Regions from separate parts of the Homo sapiens genome. Here region 2 is linked to region 1. A link means that fine-mapping ties the variant in region 1 to the expression of a gene that starts in the linked region. Tissue or cell type: whole blood. Region 1 holds a variant in brackets; the other region holds the start of a gene. All regions are shown on one strand. Distances are between the middles of the regions.

Evidence for each region. PIP is the estimated chance that this variant, and not a neighbour inherited with it, causes the effect.
Region 2: it holds the start of TNS4, and the variant in region 1 is fine-mapped to the expression of TNS4 in whole blood (TOPMed, PIP above 0.99).

Annotation. Positions count from the first base shown.
Region 1 is chr17:40,476,956-40,485,139 of GRCh38, reverse strand. TNS4 (tensin 4) reads left to right here. Exons shown (of 13, transcript NM_032865.6): 5 at 133-219; 6 at 531-656; 7 at 2,724-2,816; 8 at 2,934-3,011; 9 at 4,372-4,440; 10 at 5,298-5,466; 11 at 6,492-6,560; 12 at 6,807-6,833; 13 at 7,411-8,184. The coding sequence ends at 7,552. Among named protein-coding and RNA genes, the nearest start is that of TNS4, 21 kb to the left of the region's middle. RefSeq lists a silencer at 3,656-3,841 and an enhancer at 3,824-5,023. The variant G/T (reference allele first, on the strand shown) is at 4,567.
Region 2 is chr17:40,497,211-40,505,372 of GRCh38, reverse strand. TNS4 (tensin 4) reads left to right here and starts at 3,750. Exons shown (of 13, transcript NM_032865.6): 1 at 3,750-3,839. RefSeq lists an enhancer at 5,337-6,208.

The sequences.
Region 1 (8,184 bases):
AGGGTCTGGGATGGTGGTTGAATGAAACCTTGGGGCAATAGAGTAGGGAAGGGTCTCCAGCCTTCTCTGGTGAACATCCCTCAGCTCCCGTCTGTCCAGCCTACAGGGTCCCCCTTCTCTGTCTGTCTCCAGGTCCCGCCAGGGACATGCAGCCCACCATGAAGTTCGTGATGGACACATCTAAATACTGGTTTAAGCCAAACATCACCCGAGAGCAAGGTAAAAGGAAGCACGAGTGACCCCAGAATAGGGTCTGGGTCTTGCACTTTGCATCAGGCAGGGCCCTGGGTTACAGTTAAGGAATGGCAAATAGTGGGTCCTGGGAAGCGGGGGAGGGGGATGTCCTGCTGACCTCATGACCTCCCGAGGAAGTAGGAACCACAGCAAGAATGGTGGAGATTTGACAGTACAAAGGACTTCCTGGGGACAAAAGGTGACTCTGTAACATCTGCTCTGTGAAGACCCTACGGGGCTGGGGACAGGGTGTCCAGGTGGGGCGGTGTCCATCTCTGACTCAAGGATTGTTCCAGCAATCGAGCTGCTGAGGAAGGAGGAGCCAGGGGCTTTTGTCATAAGGGACAGCTCTTCATACCGAGGCTCCTTCGGCCTGGCCCTGAAGGTGCAGGAGGTTCCCGCGTCTGCTCAGAGTCGACCAGGTATGCGTCTGTCTCTGTGCTCACTCAAGGCCTCACTGAGGCAGCGGGGTGTGGTAGGTTCCAGTCCTGGCTCTGGCACTAGCTTTCAGGGTGACATGGCGCCAGTCTTATAACAGCTCCTAGGAGAAGCGTCCACCCCAGTGTTCTCCCCGATGCCCTCCAGCCCCAAGGCACCCTGAAAAACGCCTTTCACAGCAAGCCTGCGTGCTTCTGCCTTCCCGAGCCCCACCCCCACTTCCCTGCTTTTTTCTGATGGTGGGAGAGAAGGAGGAGGGTCCTAGCCCCCTCTAGGCTGCTCTTCTTGGAGTCAAACTGGATTCATTTCCAGGGAACCTAATGTGTGATTACACACGCAGCTAGCTTATCTCACAGGTGATAGCTTACCAGGTTTGTGTACTAGCTCAGCGCACATGTGTGTGATAGCTTATATGCTTTCCTGTGGTCTCCCATGCTTATTTGATAGCAAACATCTATGGAGCATCACCACACACCAGGCACTGTGTGAGGCAGCAGGGATACAGTGGAATCAGACACAGACACCACCTCACTAGGGAGACAGATGAAAACAGATGATTACAGTACAAGGTACCTGGGTCATAGGCCTCACTCAAACCCCAGGATTGCACCTTCTTATTTAACGGATGAGATAACGGAGGCTCCCAGAGTTACTTAATGACTCCAGAGCAATTAAGTGATAAAGGGAGGATGAAACACCCAGCCTTGTGTTCTTGACAGTATGCCTCACTGTCACAATAAGAAAGTGACCTCTGGGGAGGGTGTTACTTATAAAGGACGCCTTGCAAGAGGCAATGAGCCCAGACTGAGGAGGACACTGTGGACTGGTGGAAAGGAGTCAGAAGGTCATTGTTCACCTCCCCACCCCCGGGGCCAGCGTGGCTCCAGCAGAGATGACCTGGTGGGCAGGGGGAGACAGAAACCAGACCAAAGAGTCGACATTTATCTAAATAATTAAGAAGTTTCCTTGCCAGGCACAGTGGCTCACGCCAGTAATCCCAGCACTTTGGGAGGCCGAGGCAGGAGGATCACTTGAGCCCAGGAATCTGAGACCAGCTTGAGCAATATGGCAAAACCCTGTCGCTACAAAAATTACCCAGGTGTGGTGGAGCACACCTGTAGTCCCAGGTACTTGGGAGCCTGAGGCAGCAGAATCACTTGAACCCAGGAGGTCTTTGAGGCTGCAGTGAGCCATGATCACACCACTGCACTCCTTCCTAGACCAAAGAATGAGACCCTGTCTAAAAAAAATAAAATAAAATAATCCCTAGGCCGAAGCAGGAGAACTGCTTGAGCTCAGGAGTTCGAGACCAGCCTGAGCAAAATAGTGAGACCTTGTCTCTACAAAAGAATTAGCCCGACATGGTGGGGCACGCCTGTAGTCCCAGCTACTCAGGAAGCTGAGGTGGGAGGATTCCTTAAGCCCAGGAGGTTGAGGCTGCAGTAAGCCGAGATCATGCCGCTGCACTCCAGTCTAAGAGACAGAGCAAGACTCTGTCTAAAAAAAAAAAAAAATCCCTGATAACTCTTGACCAGCAGAAAGGTTTCCCCACCCCACCCCCAAAAAAAGAAGAAGAGAAAGGTTTCCTGAAGAGGGTGTGGCTGGAGCCATTGAGCAGATGTGTTGGCACCTCCTCTGTGGGAGGGAGAGGCAGGGGGATGGACAAGGTGGAATTTTTTTTTTTTCCGGTGAGACAGAGTCTCACTGTGTCACCCAGGCTGGAGTGCAGTAGCACAATCTCGGCTCACTGCAACCTCTGCCTCCCAGGTTCAAGCAATTCTCCTGCCTCAGCCTCCCGGGTAGCTGGGACTACAGGCATGTGAACCACGCCCGGCTTTGTGTGTGTGACTGTGTGTGTGTGTGTGTGTGTGTGTGTGTGTGTCTTTAGTAGAGATAGGGTTTTACCATGTGGGTCAGGCTGATCTCGAACTCCTGACCTCAAGTGATCTGCCCACCTCGGCCTCCCAAAGTGCTGGGATTACAGGCGTGAGCCACCGCGCCCGGCCACAAGGTGGAATTCTATCCGAATGCACTCTTTCTTCTCTGTCCAGGTGAGGACAGCAATGACCTCATCCGACACTTCCTCATCGAGTCGTCTGCCAAAGGAGTGCATCTCAAAGGAGCAGATGAGGAGCCCTACTTTGGTGAGACTCCCCAGCCTCCAGGCTCCCCCGGGATGGGGGGCCAGCGAAGTCTCCGTTGTGAGCTGAGGGGTGGGTTGGGGAAGCTCTACTCATGCAGGGCTGCTTGCTTCCTTTCAGGGAGCCTCTCTGCCTTCGTGTGCCAGCATTCCATCATGGCCCTGGCCCTGCCCTGCAAACTCACCATCCCACAGAGAGGTGGGTCTGGGCCCCAAAGAGGCAATGCCAAGGTGGGGGACCTGTTTGTTCTCATTAGAAATGGGGTTCACTCCTACCTTGTTGGTGGATTATTTTAGTGTCACGGTTAAAACTGTGTGCACTGGAGTCGCTCAACATCTCCACCTCCTAGCTGTGAAAATTTGAGAATGTTGACCTCTCTGAGCCTCAGTTTCCTCATCATACCTACTTATAGGATTGCTGTGCAGACCGAAAGAGATAGCCCGGGCAAGGCTCTTAGCGCAATGCCTGGCATAGAATGGATGTTGGATAAATAGCAGCCTGCTTTGAGAGGGTGAAAGAGCCTAAATCAAATAGTTTGGAGAGGTTTTCTCTTTCCAGGTCCAGCATTTGTTGAGCACTCACTCACCCATTCATGCTTCACTACAAGCTTGTGAAGTAGACTTTGCTGTTATCATCCCCATTTCACAGATAAGAAAATAAGGGCTGGGCGTGGTGACTCACGCCTGTAATCCCAGCACTTCGGGAGGCCAAGGCGGGCAGATCACTTGAGGTCAGGAGTTCGAAACCAGCCTGGCCAACATGGTGAAACCCCGTCTCTACTAAAAATACAAAAATTTAGCTGGGCGTGGTGGTGGGCGCCTGTAATCCCAGCTACTCAGGAGGCTGAGGCAGGAGAATCACTTGAGCCGGGGAGGCAGAGGTTGCAGTGAGCTAAGATCGCACCACTGCACTCTAGCCTGGGTGACAGAGCGACAGAGCAAGACTTCATCTAAGAAAGAAAGAAAGAGAGAAAGAGAGAAAGAAGGAAGGAAAGGAAGGAAAAGAAAACGAGGGTTCTAGATGTTACGTAATTTGCCCAAAGGCCCACAGAGTCAGACCTTGAACCCAGATCAGCATGCCCTATCCAGAGCATACAGCCAGGTAGGGGGGCAGCTCAGATGAAATAGATCATCTCAGGGGTGTGCAGGAGAAGCTCGAGAAGGGCTGTTTCTGGAAGGGCATCAAGGCAAGGGAGCCCCAGAGGAGCGATGGTGAGAGCCTCCTCGCTTTCTGCAAAGACAGGTCAGGGGTTGAGACAGGGTCCAAAAGAAGTGAGGAGGTCAGGGGCCTGTGAGGACAAGATCATGGCAGCCATCTAAGAGGTGGGGGGGCGAGGAGGGGATGAAGAGATCAAAAGGGTTGCAAACTAAGCATTTAGGGAGCCCAAAGTGGCCTGTTTGCCTAATTACGGTAATCACACCTGGTTTGAGTCACTTCCTGGAGATGGGGGTGGAGGTGGGAGATCTTCAAAGGGATTCATGAGGCCTGTTCCTGTGAGAGGGGTCCATTCACTCCACCCCCGCCCCTTTGGGGGGCCTGTTTCTTTGCCTTGGCTCAGAACTGGGAGGTGCAGATGGGGCCTCGGACTCTACAGACAGCCCAGCCTCCTGCCAGAAGAAATCTGCGGGTGAGTGGTACAGGAAGGGAGGCGCCAAGCTTGGCTGTGCCCCAAGAGGGCACCTCCCAACCCTGCACACACGCACGCATGCACGCACACACGCACAGGCACACACGTGTTTCCCATCTCAGCTTT[G/T]TTTCTGCATCTTTAACAAGGTGCCACACCCGCTCCCCATCACCCCTGTAAAACAGAAGATGAGAGGCCAGCAGGGAAGTGGGGCAGGGTGGGGGGTGGGGGGAGTGGCAGAACTTACAGTCCCTCCTGCACACACATGGGCATGTGCACACGTGCTAGGGTCTCTCTAGGTCTGAGAAACCTGCCCTAGAGGTGGTTCTGGGTCTGGGATCCTCTATGGGGTGTCAGGTCTAAGTCCTGGAGCCTTCACCAGGGGAAAGGTCCCTGACCCACACTCCCAGAGGCCAGCACACATCAGCACTTGTCTCAGTGACTGTTCCTGCTCTATGCCCTGAGCACGAACAATTTCCTTCCCCATTCTTGTCTTCTGTCCCTACCGTTGCCAATGAACCAAGACCTTGAAGATGGAGGTGTGGGGAGGAGAGCAGCCGTTAAGTGTGGACAGAAGGATGTTTTCCTGGGCACCTCTACACACAGGGCAACATCCCCTCCCCTGCCCCATGCTGGAGGGCCAGGGGCCAGGGCGATGCAAAGCCACAGAAGATCCCAAAGCCCTCTGGGGTTGGCCTCAAACTGTGATCACCCACACACCCACTTTCTGTTGGGTGGCGGCTCTAAGAGGAGCTCCACTGGATTCCTGAACAGGAGACTCACCCCCTCCCCTGGCCCTGGGCAGAGGGAGAACCTGGGCCCTGGGTCAGTGGCCCCAGCGCAGTGTCTGCCTCCCACAGGCTGCCACACCCTGTACCTGAGCTCAGTGAGCGTGGAGACCCTGACTGGAGCCCTGGCCGTGCAGAAAGCCATCTCCACCACCTTTGAGAGGGACATCCTCCCCACGCCCACCGTGGTCCACTTCAAAGTCACAGAGCAGGGCATCACTCTGACTGATGTCCAGAGGAAGTAAGGGCCTTCCCTTGCCCTGGGGCTCCGGGGCTGGCGGAGTAGAGCTGGAGGGGATAGCTGAGACAGCTGCAGATCAGGGATGAAGGTCAAGTTCAGGGTTCTGGATGACCCAGCGGGGCCAGTGATGTGCTGAGTGACTCCAGGCAGCTTCCCTGCCTCCTCCAGGCCTCACTCCACTGCCAAAGCCCCTGTTCATCATGACTGATGAAAATGGAGTTAACGGGGGCCGGGCACGGTGGCTCATGCCTGTAATCCCAGCACTTTGGGAGGCCGAGGCGGGCGGATCACCTGAGGTCAGGAGTTCGAGACCAGCCTGGTCAACATGATGAAACCCCGTCTCTACTAAAAATACAAAATTAGCCGGGCATGGTGGCACGCACCTGTAATCCCAGCTACTTGGGAGGCTGAGGCAGGAGAATTGCTTGAACCCAGGAGGCGGAGGTTGTAGTGAGCTGAGAGCACGCCATTGCACTCCAACCTGGGTGACAGAGTGAAACTCCATCTCAAAAAAGGAAGGAAGGAAGGAAGGAAATGGAGTTAACTAGTATTCATGGGTGCCGATTATGCCTGCACCCATTGATGGAACATCTTCCCTCGGCCAGACTGGCTGACCACTGGGACCCAGAGAGGAATGAGATCGTTCCTTCCCCAGGCTCGGATCTCACAGTCTAACAGGAGCCTGATCCAGGGCTGAGCACTTCACAGGGAGAAACAAGAGATGACCAAGATGTAATTCGTGTCCTCAAAAAGTTAGTGGCCAAAAAAAATTAAATGGCGTGGTAGGGGTGTGATAGAAAACCCCAGAGTGTAAGACAGAGGCAGACAAGCCCCATGAGAGGAGAGAGGCAGGAGCGGGGCGCCAGGGCCCCCCAGTGGGAAAGGCCATAGCGGTCTTCAAGGTCTAACCCAGAGACTTCTTGGAGGACAGGGCACCTGAGCTTGGGGGGAACGAGAGATGCTGGAGGCAGGATGACACTGGGACAGGCTGTCATCGCTTCCCTTCTCTCCCCGCCTCCTCCTAGGGTGTTTTTCCGGCGCCATTACCCACTCACCACCCTCCGCTTCTGTGGTATGGACCCTGAGCAACGGAAGTAAGTTCAAGGCTGGGCCAAACTAAGAAGGCTGTCCAGGGCCCCGCTGCCCACCAAGGCGTCCTGCCGACTCTGGGCCTGGGATCCCAGAGGGAGCCTGTGAACCTCAAGGGGTCAGGGTGACAGAATGAGGGTAGGGTGGGGCATGGTGGGGTGGGGACGCAGCTGGCCAGTCCTGCTGCTCCTCCAGGGTCCTGTGGCATGGAGCGAAGCCTCATTACTCGGTATCATGTTCTTTTCCTACAGGTGGCAGAAGTACTGCAAACCCTCCTGGTAAGGCCTTCCTGTCTCAGGGCCCCAAACCCAACATGGGGAGGGAACTGCAGAAGGAAAGAGGCACCATTCTGACTTTAATAGTCCAAAGTGTTGATGAGGGCACAGGCCCTGGTCCTCAGGGAGCTCCCATCTGATGGGAAAGACTTTGACTGCCCTCAGAGCCTCTGGGCTGTTGGGGGTGACATGAGCCTGGGAGCCCTCAATCTTCTGCAAGAGGCACAGGCTCTAACTTCAGGGAGCCTCAAGCTATTGGAATGTCCCAGTCTGATGATCAAGATGCATCCTTGCCCTCAGGGAGCTTCCACTCTAATGGGGAATGCACAGGTCCTGTCCTCAAGGAGCCCTCACTCAAAACAAAGGAAACCCAGAGCTTGAACTCAGAAATCTCCCAGTCTGACGGGAGAGGCATCTCCTTCCCCAGGGAGCCCCACCATAAGGAGGTGCTGGAGTCAATTGGCTAAGGGAGGGGCAGGGAGGAATGAGATGCAGGCTGAGGGCCCCCCACCACCCCATTCCCACCAGCCTGATGCCTCCCTGGGTCCCACCCCTCACTCAGACTGCCCTCCCCCACCAGGATCTTTGGGTTTGTGGCCAAGAGCCAGACAGAGCCTCAGGAGAACGTATGCCACCTCTTTGCGGAGTATGACATGGTCCAGCCAGCCTCGCAGGTCATCGGCCTGGTGACTGCTCTGCTGCAGGACGCAGAAAGGATGTAGGGGAGAGACTGCCTGTGCACCTAACCAACACCTCCAGGGGCTCGCTAAGGAGCCCCCCTCCACCCCCTGAATGGGTGTGGCTTGTGGCCATATTGACAGACCAATCTATGGGACTAGGGGGATTGGCATCAAGTTGACACCCTTGAACCTGCTATGGCCTTCAGCAGTCACCATCATCCAGACCCCCCGGGCCTCAGTTTCCTCAATCATAGAAGAAGACCAATAGACAAGATCAGCTGTTCTTAGATGCTGGTGGGCATTTGAACATGCTCCTCCATGATTCTGAAGCATGCACACCTCTGAAGACCCCTGCATGAAAATAACCTCCAAGGACCCTCTGACCCCATCGACCTGGGCCCTGCCCACACAACAGTCTGAGCAAGAGACCTGCAGCCCCTGTTTCGTGGCAGACAGCAGGTGCCTGGCGGTGACCCACGGGGCTCCTGGCTTGCAGCTGGTGATGGTCAAGAACTGACTACAAAACAGGAATGGATAGACTCTATTTCCTTCCATATCTGTTCCTCTGTTCCTTTTCCCACTTTCTGGGTGGCTTTTTGGGTCCACCCAGCCAGGATGCTGCAGGCCAAGCTGGGTGTGGTATTTAGGGCAGCTCAGCAGGGGGAACTTGTCCC
Region 2 (8,162 bases), 20 kb before region 1:
CCAGAAATTTGAAGAGGCAAGGAATGGATTCTCCCTTTCAATCCCTGAAAGGAGCATGGCTCTGTCCAATTTCAGGCTCCAGACTGTGACAGAATAAATGTTTGTTGTTTTAAAGCATCAGGTTTGTGGTAATTTGTTACGATAGTCTCGAGAAACTAATAAAACACATCTTAAAAAGTAAAAAGAAGCAGAGGAAATTAATTTTAATAATGTTTTTATTTAACCCAGTATCTATAAAACAGCATCATTTCCACACACAATCAATATAAAAAATTACTGAGCAAGCATGGTGGCTCACGCCTGTAATCCCAGCCCTTTGGGAGGCCGAGGTGGGAGTATAGCTTGAAGCCAGGAGTTTGAGACCAGCCTGGGCAACATAATGTTACTGCATTTCTAGAAAAAAAAAAAATTATTCAATTACTATTGAGATATTTCATATAATTTTTCATACTGAGTCTTTAAAATCTGAATTGTATTTTGCACCCACAGCACATCTTTGTTTAGACTAGCCACATTTCAGGCGCTCCGTATCCACACACGACTAACGCTGACAGAAGATGGCTCAGCTCCAGCCTTTTGTAGGCCTCTTGGTTGCACCAGGCTGAGATTTGGGGGCCTTTCTGTCTATGAGTCATACTCCCCCATGAACAGTGTGCTCCTTGCGGGCAGGAGCCTTGTCCCATTCATCTCTATATCCTAACATCTGAATGCAGGGGCACTCAATAAATTGTTGTTTTTTGTTTATTTGTTTGTTTGTTTGTTCTAGATGGAGTCTCACTCTGACACCCAGGCTGGAGTACAGTGGCGTAATCTCAGCTCACTGCAACCTCCACCTCCCAGGTTCAGGAGATTCTCCTGCCTCAGCCTCCCGAGTAGCTGGGATTACAGGTGCCCACCACCATGCCTGGCTAGTTTTTGTGGTTTTAGTAGAGACGGGATTTCACCATGTTGGCCAGGCTGGTCTCAAACTCCTGATCTCAGGCGATCTGCCCACCTCGGCAGTGTGCCCTCCCAAAGTGCTGGGATTACAGGCGTGAGCCACCACACCCAGCCAAATAAATGTATTTTGAATGAATGAGTAATGTGGGTTCTCTACAAGAAAAAAACTCAGTCAGAAATTACATTTCTTAGTTTCTTTTTTTTTTGAGATGGAGTCTTGCTCTGTCACCCAGGCTGGAGTGCAGCGGTGCGATCTCGGCTCACTGCAAGCTCTGCCTCCTGGGTTCACGCCATTCTCCTGCCTCAGCCTCCCGAGTAGCTGGGACTGCAGGCACCCGCCACCACGCCCGGCTCATTTTTTGTATTTTAATAGAGACGGGGTTTCACTGTGTTAGCCAGGATGATCTCGATCTCCTGACCTCGTGATCCACCCACCTCGGCCTCCCAAAGTGCTGGGATTACAGGCGTGAGCCACTGCACCCGGCCATTTCTTGGTTTCTTTAATTGATTTTCCCTCTCCCTTAGTGAGAGACATGCAGAATACATCAAAATATAGGCTGGACTTTTTTTTTTTAATCTACTTGGAATCCCTTCTTTCAGAAGAGTAGATGTAGGACAAGGTGCCCCCGTCAACTAGGGAAATAGTGTATTTTGAGGTTGAAAAGAAATGCTGTGAATAGGCTTATATCTAGCAAAGAATTGAATTAATAATTAATAACCTTCCAAAACAGAAAGCACCAGGACCAGACAGTTTTACTGGTGAAATCTACCAAACATTTGAGGAAGAAATAGGACCACTTCTCTACAACCTCTTTCAGAAGATAGAAGCAGAAGGAACACTTCCCAACTCATTTTATGAGGCCAGCATTGCTGAAACCAGAGATACAAAAGAAAACTAGACACCAATATCACTCATGAACATAGATGCAAAAATCCTCCACAAAATGTTAGCAAATTGAACCCAACAATGTATTAGAAGAATTATACAGACCCAGGCATAGTGGTACATGTCTGTAATCCCAGCTACTCCAAAGTCTGAAGTGGGAAGATCACTTGAGTCCGGGAGGTTGAGACCAGCCTGGGCAACATAGCAAGACCCCATCACAAAAAAAAAAAGAATTATATACCATGACCAGGGGGTTCATCCCAGGTATGCAAGGAGGGTTCAAAATTCAAAAGTAAATTAATGTAATCTATCACATCCATAGGCTAAAGAAAAAATGTCATATCTATAGATGTATAAAGAAATGCCACTCCATCCATCCCTTGATGATCACGGCAAAGGGCAGTGATGTGGTGTTGGGCAGGGTTTGTGAGGCAGCTGGGGCTGAAATCACTGTTCTGAGACCATCTTAAGCTAAAGGAAGCAGCTGGGTGTGAAACAAAAGAGCCAATCTGCCAAGAAAGACCATAACCCCCAGGTATGGGTCTGTAAGGCTGGAGGACCCCCTGGCCCTGAAGAACCACTGCAGAGGCTATCCATACCAGCCCCAGGGGAGATGGCCAGGGTTACCCCGGAGTTGCCACAGTCTCTGCCCAACACTTCGCCCTACTGTAACCTGCCCCTTCCACTCAAGAAACTCACGAGTCGCCCCTCCCACTCTCCCACAATCATGAGCCACAGCCTCATGGGGGAAGCCGCCATGTGCAGTGACATCCACTCCAGGGCAGGAGCACCACATTTTTCATCCAAAGACATAATTGCTCATCAAGCCATGTGCCAACAAGGCTGCATGGACACCTAGGGACACCTTTTATGTCACCATCAGGAAGGGGCACCTTATATAACTTTCCATAGCTTTGCTCACCGGCCTCCCATGCACTAGTTCACCATGCCTCAGTGAAACCCCAGGGCATCAAAAACTGTAAGGCCAGAAGCCCTTCCACTGGGCATAATGGGGGCATGGGGCAACCCACCCCTGAGATTAGCCTACTGGGATCACCATGAGTCCCTGGGCTGGAGACTTCGCCAGCTCCCTCACTTCAGACCGCTCCCAGACCAGGCTCTGCCATCAGCACCCTCCCCTCACCATGTCTGAACACCTCCTTACAACATTCTAGGACCCCTGCCCCTCTAGAACAGGGAGAGAGTTGGAACCATGGAGAAGGAGCTACCAGACCAGACTTCTGGGCTTCCTGATCTCACCCTCCAATGTCCTCCCCTCAGGGAACTTCCACCCTGGGGCACAGACCAGACGAGGGACAGAGATAGCCCATGAGTGAAGGAACAGCTATAAGCCCCTTCTCAAAGCCCTCCAGACACTTCAGCCTCCTTTCCTTGAGTTAGAGGCCCCATCCCAAGCTAGAGTCATTACTGTAAAAGGAGAGAAAGAAGAAAAGACAAGCTCGTGCCTAGCCTTACTTCCAGTGGGCCCTTACCCTGTGCCTGTCCCAGTGTGACCCAGCACAAAGGGGGACTGCAGAGGGTCTCCTGCCCACTGGCATCCTGCTTTGTCAAGGCCCTCACTCTCTGCCAGCTCTGCCAACCCATGGCCTCTGCCCCAGCCAGCACCTGAGGAGTGCCCACTGCACACCTTGATTCTAGCTATGCCCTGTCCAAGCAAGGACTCCCTGGCCATGTGGTGCCACGAGAAGCCCAAGCAGGAACTTGGGAGCCCCTCACACACACCCAGACCCAAAACCCACCACCCAGTGCTTCCCTTCCTGCTGCCTGTGCCAGCCCCACCTGAGCTCACTGGATCCAGCAGGGGTGGGGCCTACTGCTGTCAGGGCCACGTGCAGGGCCCGCCCGGAGGGGAGGAGAGAAGGCGGGCAAGCTGCTTTTAAGGCAGGTCTGGAGGTGAACTGGCGCCTCTCCTGACTCTTCACCTGGACTCTGAGTCGTCTTGGTCCCAGGAGCCAGTAGTGAAGGCAACAGTCTGCCCACCTGTGGACACCAGGTAGGTGCCTTTATTCTTTAAGAAGAGAGGAACACGGAGCACCTTTGCTGGCCCTGATTCATTTAAACATTTTTTTTTTTTTTTTTGAGATGGAGTCTTGCTCTGTCACCCAAGCTGGAGTGCAGTGGCGCGATCTCGGCTCACTGCCAACGTCTGCCTCCAGGGTTCAAGCGATTCTCCTGCCTCAGCCTCCCAAGTAACAGGGATTACAGATGTTTGCCACCATGCCCGGCTAATTTTCTTATGTTTAGTAGAGACGCGGTTTCACCATGTTGGCCAGGCTGGTCTCAAACTCCTGACCTCAGGTGATCCTCCCACCTTAGCCTCCCAAAGTGCTGGAATTACAGGCGTGAGCCCAGCCTCATTTAACCTTTTGTCTTCAGCTTCTCCATTTCTCAGGGCTCAGAGTGAAGGTGGGGAGAAATGGGGTGGAGGATGTGGATGAGACAGAGATGGTCTCAGGATCACAGACCGCGGAGTTCAGCAGTTCAAGGGAACTAAACCTGTGCCCCTCGGCAAATAGATGAGAGAGCTGAGGGCCACAGAGAAGAGGCTTGCCTGAGGTCATGGAAAGGGACTGGACACAGAACCCAGGCCTCTCGCCTCCCAGCGCTCTGGGAGCCCTCTGGGCACTTCAGAGGTAGACAGGACTGGGAGATGGGGCGGCTGGCCTTCACTGGTCCTATGGGTCCCTGCCTGAGGTCCACGTCCTGCGTCACCGGGTCTGGGTGGGAGGGATGGGAAGATCGGGAGCCAGTTTTCAAAAATAGGGGGTGCAGTGGAGATTGGGCTAATGAGGCAAAGTGCTTTGGGGGAGACTCAGGCTTTACCCTTGCCCCACCCTCTCCCTTCACTGACCTGGGCTCATTGGGAGAGAGTAAGTCAGGAGAAGAGGTTGGCAATGACACGGAAGAGGGGATTTGCCAAGGCACCAGGACTCCCCAGAGTCCTTGGGAACAAAGAAAGAGATCTGAGTCAGAATCAGAAGTGGGAGCGGGTAGGGGGCACCTACAAATAGAGCAGAGGTGGCTGGAGCCCTCCTTGCCCCCGCCCCGTGCCTCCCAACCACACAGAGCCCCGGGCCCAGGGACTCTCCCCACCACTTACAGCAAGAAAGAGCAAGTTAGAGGAGTGTGCGGGGCCGCGAAGGGGGCAGCATTCAGGAATACAGGAGTAAGATGGAGCCCTGCCTTGGTACATCCAAGGGCGACGCAGAGCCTTAAAAGTGAGGGGAGGCTGAAGAGGAGCGTAGGGGCTGCCTGCCCTTTGCTCAGCTCCAGGTCTGTCCCTCTTGGTTCCAGAATCCCAGAAGGGGCAGCGGTGGACAGGGTTCTTAAATATGTGAAGCAGCAGCAGAGGCTAAAAGTGTGGGACCGTGGAGCAAGACCACCTGGGTTTAAACCCCAATTCACAGTTGGGGTTGTATGACCTTGGGCAAATTCCTCAACCTCTCCAGCCCTGCAGCAATAGCACCCTCCTCAGAGAGCTGTTGAGAAAATGCAAGGTGTTCAGTGTCTGTTATTATCACATCCCCATCACACAGATGGGACAACTGAGGTCTGCCCAGAGAGGAAAGGACGCTTGCCCAGCGTGGCACAAAAGCTGTGTCCAAATTAGTAAGCAGGTATACTGGGTCCTGGTTGCGAGGGGACACCCAGCCCTCCTTGAGCTCTGCAAAGTCAGCAGCCCCAGCCTCCTCTGCAGGACACAGCCAGAAAACCCTGCAGGGAGCGCCCAGATCCTGTCCCAACAAACCCAGTCCACTTGGAGCCTGTGTGGAAAAAGCCGTGGTTCCGGCTCTGTGTCCTCAGCTGTCCCGGGAGGGCGGGAGCGCAGAGGCCGGCTCCCTTCCACTTCCATTTATAGAAAGCTTCCCGTGCCCGGGATGCCCCGCCCCCTGCAGGACCTGGCCAAGGAAAAGTCTGGCATCAGACCTACCGGAGCCACGGGCGTTGGGGGAGGCAGGAGAGGGGAAGGGGCCCTGGCTTTTCTCATGAAACCTGTGCGACCTTCAGCCAATCATGCCCCCTCTCTAGATCCCAGGTGTCCCTCTGCACTTGAATTCCATGTGGCATTGTAGCAGGACGAGCCGCAGACAAAACTCCTCAGACACCAAGTTAAAGAAGGAAGGGGTTTATTCGGCCGGGGGCATCAGCAAGACTCCTGTCTCAAGAGCCGAGCTCCCCGAGTGAGCATTTCCTGTCCCTTTTAAGGGCTCACAACTCTAAGGGGGTGCGTGTGAGAGGGTCGTGATCAATTGAGCAAGCAGGGGGTACGTGACTGGGGGCTGCACGCACCGGTAATTACGTGGGAACAAAACAGGAAAGGGATTTTCACAGTGCATTTCTATACAATGTCTGTAATCTATAGATAACATAACCGATTAGGTCAGGGGTCGATCTTTAACTACCAGGCCCAGGGTGTGGCGCTGGGCTGTCTGCTTGTGGATTTCATTTCTGCCTTTTAGTTTTTACTTTTTCTTTCTTTGGAGGCAGAAATTGGGCATAAGACAATATGAGGGGTGGTCTCCTCCCTTAGCATAAGGAATTAAGATTCCAAAATCCCACACCTGGGTTTGAATCCCAGCTCCACCATCTTTCTGGATGTGAAGCGTGTTTCTTGACCTCTCCGAGTCTCAGCATCTTCATCTGTAAAATGGACTGACAACTCAAAATAAATAAATAAGGCCAGGCACAGCGGCTCACACCTGTAATCCTAGCACTTTGGGAGGCCGAGGAAGGAGGAGCACTTGAGCCCAGGAGTTCAAGACCAGCCTGGGCAACAAAGTGAGACCCTCTTTCTACAAAAAATTCTCTGGGTATAGGGCACAAGCCTGTAGTCCCAGCTACTCGGGAGGGTGAGCTGGGAGAATCGCTTGAGCCCCAGGAGGTCAAGGCTGCAGTGAGCCATGACTGTGCCACTGCACTCTAGCCTGGGCAACAGAGCGACACCTTGTCTCAAGAAAAAAAAACAAGAGGACTGACAATAGGGTGCAGTACTTCCTAGAGCTGTGAGAGGATTGAGTTACCAATGTAATTCGTATGTAAACTATTTGGCACATGGTCAGCGCTCAATAAATGGAAGCTACTATTATGAGGCTGTTATACTCCATAAGTCCTTATTTCTAAGTACTATTTAGAATTGCCTAACTACCTTCACAAGGAGCACCTCACTGGTTCCATAACACTCTCTGGGAGGGTGCAGGAATTCTCATTACCATCTCACAGATGAGGAAACTCAGGGTCAGAGTCACACCATAAGGAGCTATTTGAGCTAGAAGTCAAATCTAAACCTTCGGATCCCAGAGTCCACTTTCTCTTCTCCCAGGCTAGTCTCAGATACCTTTTCCAGTGCTAAGGTCTGACTCCAAAACAGGACGTAAAGGAGGCGTTTTGGCAACGAGAAGAAAGAGAGTTGGGGGGTGTTGGTGGGGGCTGGGGACCAGCAGCAAAGCTCAGAGCAGGCAATGGGAGTGTAACCAGCACATTGCAGCTCTGTACAGTTTTCTTGGCAGCCTCAGTCCCAGAACTTCTTACCTCCTTACCAAGCCCCACCTACAAGAAACTAGCATGTGGCATTAAGGTTAGACAATGGAAAGGACTTTTCACAGTAAGGAAAATGAGGAGGTTGAGACATCTCTTTCCCAAATGAGCCCCAAGGAAATGAATATCATCTGATGATGTCACTCCCCAGCTCAAAACTTTTCAGAGCCTCCCTGTTGCCCTCAGGGTTGAGCTGGCAGTCCTGAGCCCAGCCTGCAAGGCCCTACGGGATCTGGCCAGCCTGCCTCCCCCGCCCCATCTCCTCCACCCACCCCAGGTGCTCTGTTACTCAGGTGCTCAATAGGGTCTTGTGAGCTTCCCTGCTGGCCAGACTTTTGCACAAATGGTCCCCTCTACTTTGTTTATTTATTTGTTTATTTGTTTAGTTAGAGACAGAGTCTTGCTCTGTCATCCAGGCTGCAGTGCATTGGCTCGATCTCGGCTCACTGCAACCTCTGCCTCCCAGCTTCAAGCAATCCTCCTGCCCCAGTCTCCTGAGTAGCTGGAATTACAGGCACGTGCCATCATGCCAGCTAATTTTTATATTTTTAGTAGAGATGGGGTTTCACCATGTTCACCAGGCTGGTCTCGAACTCCTGACCTCAAGGGATCAGCCCACCTCAGACTCCCAAAGTGCTGGGATTACAGGTGTGAGCCATCACGCCCAGCTCATCCCCTCTAACTTAAATCTTCCTCTCTGCCTCCTCATCCCTACTCAACTTGCGCAGCTACCTCTTGCTTTTCCTTCTTATCTCCCTTTGCGTGTCCCTTCCTCCAGGAA